Linked DNA regions of Homo sapiens. The protein of the gene in region 1 purifies or fractionates together with the protein of each later gene. This does not show direct contact. Each region holds a gene or a part of one and is shown on either strand. Other genes may lie near its edges.

Region 1 (3,653 bases):
CTGATTGAAAAATTATTTGCAAAAATTTTCTCCCATTCTGTGGATTGTCTTTGTACTTTCTTGATGGTGTGCTTTGAAGCACAGACATTTTTTGTTGTTGTTGTTGTTTGAGACAGGATGTCACTCTGTTGCCCAAGCTGGAGTGCAGTGGTGTGATCTCAGCCCACTGCAGCCTTGACTTCCCTGGGCTCAGGTGATTTTCCCACCTCAGCCTCCCGAGTAGCCGGGACTACAGGTGCGTGCCACCACACTCAGCTAATTTTTAAATTTTTTGTAGAGATGGAGTCCCGCCATGTTTCCCATGCTGGTCCCAGGCTGGTCTTGAATTCCCAGGCTCAAGCCCCTGCCTTGGCCTCCCAAAGTGCTGGGATTACAGACATAAGCCACCATGCCTGGCCCATGGAAGTTTTTATTGCTGATGAAGTCCAATTTATTTATTTTTCCTTTTGTTGCTTATGCTTTTTTAAGTTTAAATTTTAAAATGATTAAATTTTTTTTAATCTTATTTTTTTTTTTTTTTTAGTAGAGATGAGATCTTGCTATGTTGCCCAGGCTGGTCTCAAACTCCTGACCTCAAGTGATCCTCCCACCTTGGCCTCCCAAAATGCTGGGATTACAGATACAAGCCACTGTGCCCGGCCTAAGAAGATTTTTTTTTTTCTTTTTTTTTTTTTTGAGGCAGAAGCCTTGCTCTGTCGCCCAGGCTGGAGTCCAACGGCGTGATCTCGGCTCACTGCAACCTCCGCCTCCCTGGTTCAAGCTATTCTACTGCCTCAACCTCCGAGGTAGCTGGGACTACAGGCATGTGCCACCATACCCGGCTAATTTTATTGTATTTTTAGTAGAGTTGGGGTTTCACCATGCTGGCCAGGCTGGTCTCGAACTCCTGACCTCAAGTGATCTGCCCGCCTCGGCCTTCTAAAGTGCTGGGATTACAGATGTGAGCCATCGTGCCAAGCCAAGATTTTTTAAATTGAGAAATAAAGTTGTATGTATTTATTGTGTACAACATTATGTTTTGAAGTATATATACACTGTGGAGTAGTTAAATCTAGCTAATAAATGTATTACATCACACAGTTATTTTGGTGGTGAAAACATTTAATGTCTACCATCTTTTCATTTTTCAAGAATATATCATCACTAACTGTAGTCACCATGCTATACAGTAGAGCTCTTGAACTTATTCCTGTCTAACTGTAATTATGTATCCTTTAGACCCACATCTCCCCATTCCCCCTCCCCTAACCACTTCAGCCTATGGAAAGAAAATTCTGCTTTCCACTTCCGTGAGATCACCTTTTACAGATTCCACAAATGAGTGAGATCATGTAGTATTTGTCTGTGTCTGGCTTATTTCAGTTAACATAGTCTCTTCCAGGTTCATCCATTTTGTTGCAAATGATAGGATTTTATTCATTTTTATGGCTGAATAGTATTCCATTGTGTATATACACTATATTTCCTTTATCCATTAATGGACATTTATTGATTCCATATCTTGGCTGTTGTAAATAGTGCTGCAATAAACATGTGAGTGCAAATATCTCTGACATACTGATTTCATTTCCTTTGGATGTATATCCGTAGTGGGACTGCTGGATCATACAGTAGCTCTATTTTTGATATTTTGAGGAACCTCCATACCGTTTTACATAATGGCTGTATTAATTTACATTCCCACCAACAATGTATAAGCATTCTGTTTTCTCCATACCCTTGTTGTGTTTTCTTTTTGATGTGTTGCTTGTGCTTCTGACATAATATCTAAGAAGGCTTTGCCTAACCCAGGGTTATGAAGATTTACTCCTGTGCTTTTTTCTAAGATTTTTTAGTTTTTGCACTTATATTTAATTCTGTAATCCACTTAGAGTTTAAAAAAATCATGGTTATCACTATGTTTAAGTTTTCTACAGATCGTGTGCTTGTTAGCATCATTATTATTATTGTTTTGAGACAGGGTTTCACCCTGTTGCCCAGATGGAAATGCAGTGGCGCAATTTTGGCTCACTGCAACTTCAGCCTCCCAGGCTCAAGTGATTCTCCCTCCTCAGCCTCCCGACTAGCTGGAACTACAGGCGCATGCCACCACACTTGGTTACTTTTTGTATTTTTTGTAGAGACGGGGTTTTGCTGTGTTGTGCAGGCTGGTCTCGAACTCCCAGGCTGAAGCCATCCTCCTGCCTTGTCCTCCAAAGTGCTGGGATTGCAGGCATAAGCCACTGCACCTGGCCATGTACTTGTTAACATTAGAAATGCTTCAGTCGGGTGGCTGTGGTGGCTCAGTTGTATTAGTCCCAACACTTGAGGAGGCTGAGGTAGGAGGATTGCTTGAGCCCAGGAGTTCAAGACAAGCCTGGGCAACATAGTGAGACCCACATCTTTATAAAAAGTTTTTTTAAAACATGAGCCTGGTGTGGTGGCATGCACCTGCAGTCTTAGCTACTCAGAAGGCTGAGGCAGGAGAATTGTCTGAGCCCGGGAGTTCAAGGCTGCAGTGAGCTATGATCACACCTGGGTGACAGAGCAAGAACCTATCTCTAAAAGAGAAAGAGAGGAGAGAGAAAAAAGGGAGGAAAGAAAGAAAAAGAAAAAAATGCTTTAGTTCCTACAGTAAGACTATACTAAAGCTTTCAGATTAGGTGTTAGTTCAAGCTAATTTTTAAATGAATCACTGAAATGTATAAATATTGACTATATCTTCTAGGAATCACTTGGAGTTGATTTTTTGTGTATGGTGTAAGGAAAGGGTCCAGCATCATTTTTTTGCACATGGGTATACGGTTATCCCAGCATTTTATAATTCATATTATTGTCTTGGCATTTTCTTGCTAATTATATGTCTTTCCCCACTAGAATATAAACTCTATGAAGGCAGGAAACTTGTCAGGTTCATCACTGTTCTGATTACTATTGCTGTGTCAGAAATCACCCCAAAATGTAGTGCCTGGAAACATCATTTTATTATGCGCATAGATTCTTTTGCTTTGGAATTTGGATAGGGCACAGTGGGAATGGCTTATGTCTGTTCCATGATGTCTGGCATCCCCGCTGGAAAGTCTCAATAACTGGAACCTGGTCATCTCTAGGCATCTTTATGCACATGTCTGGCTGTTGATTCTGGCCATCTGTTGGGCCTTTAGCTGGGGCAGTGGACTAGAGTGCTTGCATGTGGTCTATCTGTATGGCCTGGGCTTTCTCACAGCCTGGTGTCTCCAGGTAGTCGGACTTCTTACATAGAAGCTCAGGGCTCCAAAAGCTTGTGTTCCAGCACAATGTAGAGCCAATTGCCTTTTCTGACTAGCCTCAGAAGTCAAGCAGTGAATAACTGGTCATACCAGATTCAAGAAGTGGGCTCTACTTCTCAATGAGAGAATGTAGAAGAGCATATGGAATGGAAGATGCTGTCTCAGCCATCTTTGGAAAATATAACATGCCACAATTATTCTGTCTTCAGTGTCAGGCACATAATGAATGCCAATACATACTGAATGAATACCAAGCACTATGGTTTATGTTTGTTTTGAGATAGAGTCTCACTGTATCACCCAGGCTGGAGTGCAGTAGTTCAAACATGGCTTCCTTTAGCCATGACCTCCTAGGCTTAAGGGATACTCCCACCTCAGTCTCCTGAGAGTAGCTGGGACCACAGG
Region 2 (3,653 bases), on another chromosome or scaffold:
CCGTAAGCATTGCCACCTTCCCAGGAAGAGTATCAATCAATACTGCCCAACCCAAAGGGGAACTGGCCTGCAGCCCTGGAAAAGGCCTTGTTCTCTGGGTCTCAGGTCCCTCATCTGTAACTTTACAGAAGTTAAACCAGAAAAATTATCTCAAGCCTGGGGCTCTGAGATTCTGAGTGCCTACAGCAAAGAAATGGCCTAAGTACAAAGCTACAGCCAGGACAGAAGGGACTCCACCAGGAGAATCTGCCCAGTGAGTCACCATCTGCTCAAAGCAAGAAGCCTGCAGGAAAATCTGAAAAGCCTAAGATCCCCTCCAACCCCCTCAGGATCTTGGCCTGAGTCAGGCTAACATAGGAAAGGTCTTTATAGCTCACCACAGCTCAAGGCTCACCACTTTCCCTTTTTTTTTTTTTTTTTTTTTGAGACAGAGTCTCACTCTGTTGCCCAGGACCGGAATGCAGTGGTGCGATCTCAGCTCGTCCGCGACCTCCACCTCCCAGGTTCAAACGAATTCTCCTGCCTCAGTCTCTCGAGTACCTGGGATTACAGGAGTGCACCATGATGCCTGGCTAATTTATATATACATACATATATATATATATATATATATATATATATATATATATATATATATTTTTTTTTTTTTTTTTTTTTTTTTTTTTTTTTTTTTTGAGACGGAGTCTCGCTCTGTCGCCCAGGCTGGAGTGCAGTGGCGCGATCTCGGCTCACTGCAAGCTCCGCCTCCCGGGTCAAGCCATTCTCCTGCCTCAGCCTCCCAAGTAGCTGGGACTACAGGTACCCACCACCACACTCAGCTAACTTTTTCTATTTTTTAGTAGAGACGGGGTTTCACTGTGTTAGCCAGGATGGTCTCGATCTCCTGGCCTCGTGATTCACCCACCTCGGCCTCCCAAAGTGCTGGGATTACAGGCATGAGCCACTGCACCCGGCCAATTTTTATATTTTTAGTGGAGAGGGGGTTTCGCCATGTTGGCCAGGCTAGTCTTGAACTCCTGACCTCAGGTGATCCTCCTGCCTCAGCCTCCCAACGTGCTGGGATTACAGGCATGAACCACTGCACCCAGGCAAGGCTCATCACTCTCAATCCTGCCCTTACTGCAAGGGGCAGCCCATCCGATTTTAGGGCAGAGAAAGACCCTCTCCCAGCAGTCCACACTGACCCGCAGCACCTCGCCCTCCCTTCAGGGATGCTCTGTCCTCAGAACACAGCAGGAGAGCCACCAGCTGTCCTAGGGCAGCATCAGCAGAGAAGCCATCAGTGTGGACAAAACTGGAGTCTGACAAACCCAGGTTCAGCTCCCTGGCTTCCAGGCTCTGTGACCTTGACCAGCTTAGTTTACCTCTCTGAGCTTCAGTTGCATTATCTGTAAAGTAGAACAGTAGTTCCCATCTGATCAGGTGCTAATAAGACTCACCCCTGGGCAAGGTGCGGTGGCTCACACCTATAATCCCAGCACTTTGGGATGCCAAGGCAGGAGGATCGCTTGAGCCCAGGAGTTCGAGACCAGCCTGGACTAACATGGTGAAACCCCATCTCTACTAAAACTACAGAAATTAGCCGGGCATGGTGGCACCCACCTGTAATAACAGCTACTTGGGAGGCTGAGGCAGGAAAATCGCTTGAACCGGGGAGGTGGAGGTTGCAGTGAGGTGAGATCACATCACTGCACTCCAGCCTGGGTGACAGAGCGAGACTCTGTCACAAAAAAAAAAAAAAAAAAAAAAAAAAAAAAGGCCAGGCATGGTGGCTCACTCCTGTAATCCCAGCACCCTGGGAGGCCGAGGCGGGCGGATCATAAGGTCAGGAGATCGAGACCATCCTGGCTAACACGGTGAAACCTCATCTCTACTAAAAATACAAAAAATTAGCCAGGCATGGTGGCAGGCACCTGTAGTTCCAGCTACTCGGGAGGCTGAGGCAGGAGAATGGCGTGAACCCGGGAGGCGGAGCTTACAGTGAGCCAAGATGGAGCCACTGCACTCCAGCCTGGGCGAGAGTGCGAGACTCTGTGTAAAAAAAAAAAAAGAAAGAAAACACCCTAAATGTGGGTTATGGGGGACCCCAAGAGGCTCGCTTCTGGGTATTCAGCTGCGGGAAATGGGCAGTGACCTGGACTGCTGGAGGCTGAAGACAGACTGATTTTCTCAGGAATTAACAGGCTCAATTACAAGATGTAGTAGCTGTTTTTCCAGTTGCTGCTGGGCTCATTGCTTTGAGTCTCATCTGCAGTGGCAAAAACAGCAATAAAATAAAAAAATACATTAAAAAAATACTGTATCCTAGGATAAGCAGTTCGCTTACCGACCTAGCTCTGACCCCAAGACAATGCTAAGGCCTGCTCTGGTATTCTAAGAAGACGGCTTCAGCCAAGGCCTGGAGGTGACCCGTTCTAGAGAGAGGCTTCACCTCAATTAGGCCACAGAGTGGAAAACTTTTCCTCTCAGATCAGATGAGATTTGGCAGTGATATGAGGCTACTATGGAAACAGCCACCGATCTCCACTACTGCTGGGATCCCAACTGCCATGATAACAGTCCTCAACCAGACATTAATTTGTTGCGTGACAGTCAGCACGTCCTGCACCCCTCTGGGCATTACCTCTATCAGTTGTAAACTGCACTTCATAATCTCCAAGGTCTCTCCAGGGGCCAACCTTTCAGTGGACAACAGACTGCTTGAGGGTGGGAAGATGGATTTAGTCCCAAGCAGAAATAGATTTTTTTCTTTTTTTTTTTGAGACAGAGTCTCGTTCTTGTCACCCAGGCTGGAGTGCAGTGGTGCGATCTCAGCTCACTGCAACCTCCACCTCCCAGGTTGAAGTGATTCTCCTGCCTCAGCCTCCCAAGTACCTGGGATTTCAGGCGTGCGCCACCACACCCAGCTAATTTTTTATTTTTTGTAGAGACGGAGTTTCATCATGTTGGCCAGGCTGGTCTCAAACTCCTGACCTCACATGATTTGCCCACCTTGGTGTCCCAAAGTGCTGGGATTACAGGCATGAGCCACTGTGCCCAGCTGAAATATATCCTTTATTTATTTTTTTTAAAACAGAGTCTCGCTCTGTCACCCAGGCTGGAGTACAGTGGCGTGATCTCAGCTCATGGCAACTCCGCCTCCCAGCTTCAAGTGATTCTCATTCCTCAGCCTCGAAGCCAGTAGCTGGGACTACAAGCACGTGCCACCATACCCAGCTAATTTTTTTGTTTTTAGTAGAGACGAGGTTTCACCATGTTGACCAGGCTGGTCTCGAACTCCTGACTTCAAGTGATTCACCCGTCTCAGCCTCCCAAAGTGCTGGGATTACAGGCATGAGCCACCTCGCCCGGCCAGAAATATATTCTTTGATGTAGACAAACCTTTTCTCAAATTGCTTGTTAAGTGTGAGTGAAAGCATCCTTTCTATTTTTACTGACCTACAATACACACATGCAGTTAAACTAATCTGCTTGCTATGCAATCCGCTGGGCCGGGAAACAACTGCTTCTCCCACCCAGAAGCCCTGTAGCTATCGCCTCTATGGGTACTTGGCAAAGGTTGGCAGAGAATAACAAACAACACAGCAAAATAACAATTTATTTTTTCCTTCAAGGTCACTTTGAACAGTGAGTTTGAAGCTTCCCTTTTTTTT

Evidence for each region.
Region 2: the proteins of POLD3 (region 1) and TECR purify together in Homo sapiens (tandem affinity purification; one large-scale study listed by IntAct). This does not show direct contact.

What each region holds. Positions count from the first base shown.
Region 1 is NC_000011.10:74,595,526-74,599,178, forward strand, and holds part of POLD3 (DNA polymerase delta subunit 3), read left to right. Parts: intron 1-3,653. UniProt on the Homo sapiens protein: Accessory component of both the DNA polymerase delta complex and the DNA polymerase zeta complex.
Region 2 is NC_000019.10:14,532,528-14,536,180, reverse strand, and holds part of TECR (very-long-chain enoyl-CoA reductase), read right to left. Parts: intron 1-3,653. UniProt on the Homo sapiens protein: Involved in both the production of very long-chain fatty acids for sphingolipid synthesis and the degradation of the sphingosine moiety in sphingolipids through the sphingosine 1-phosphate metabolic pathway.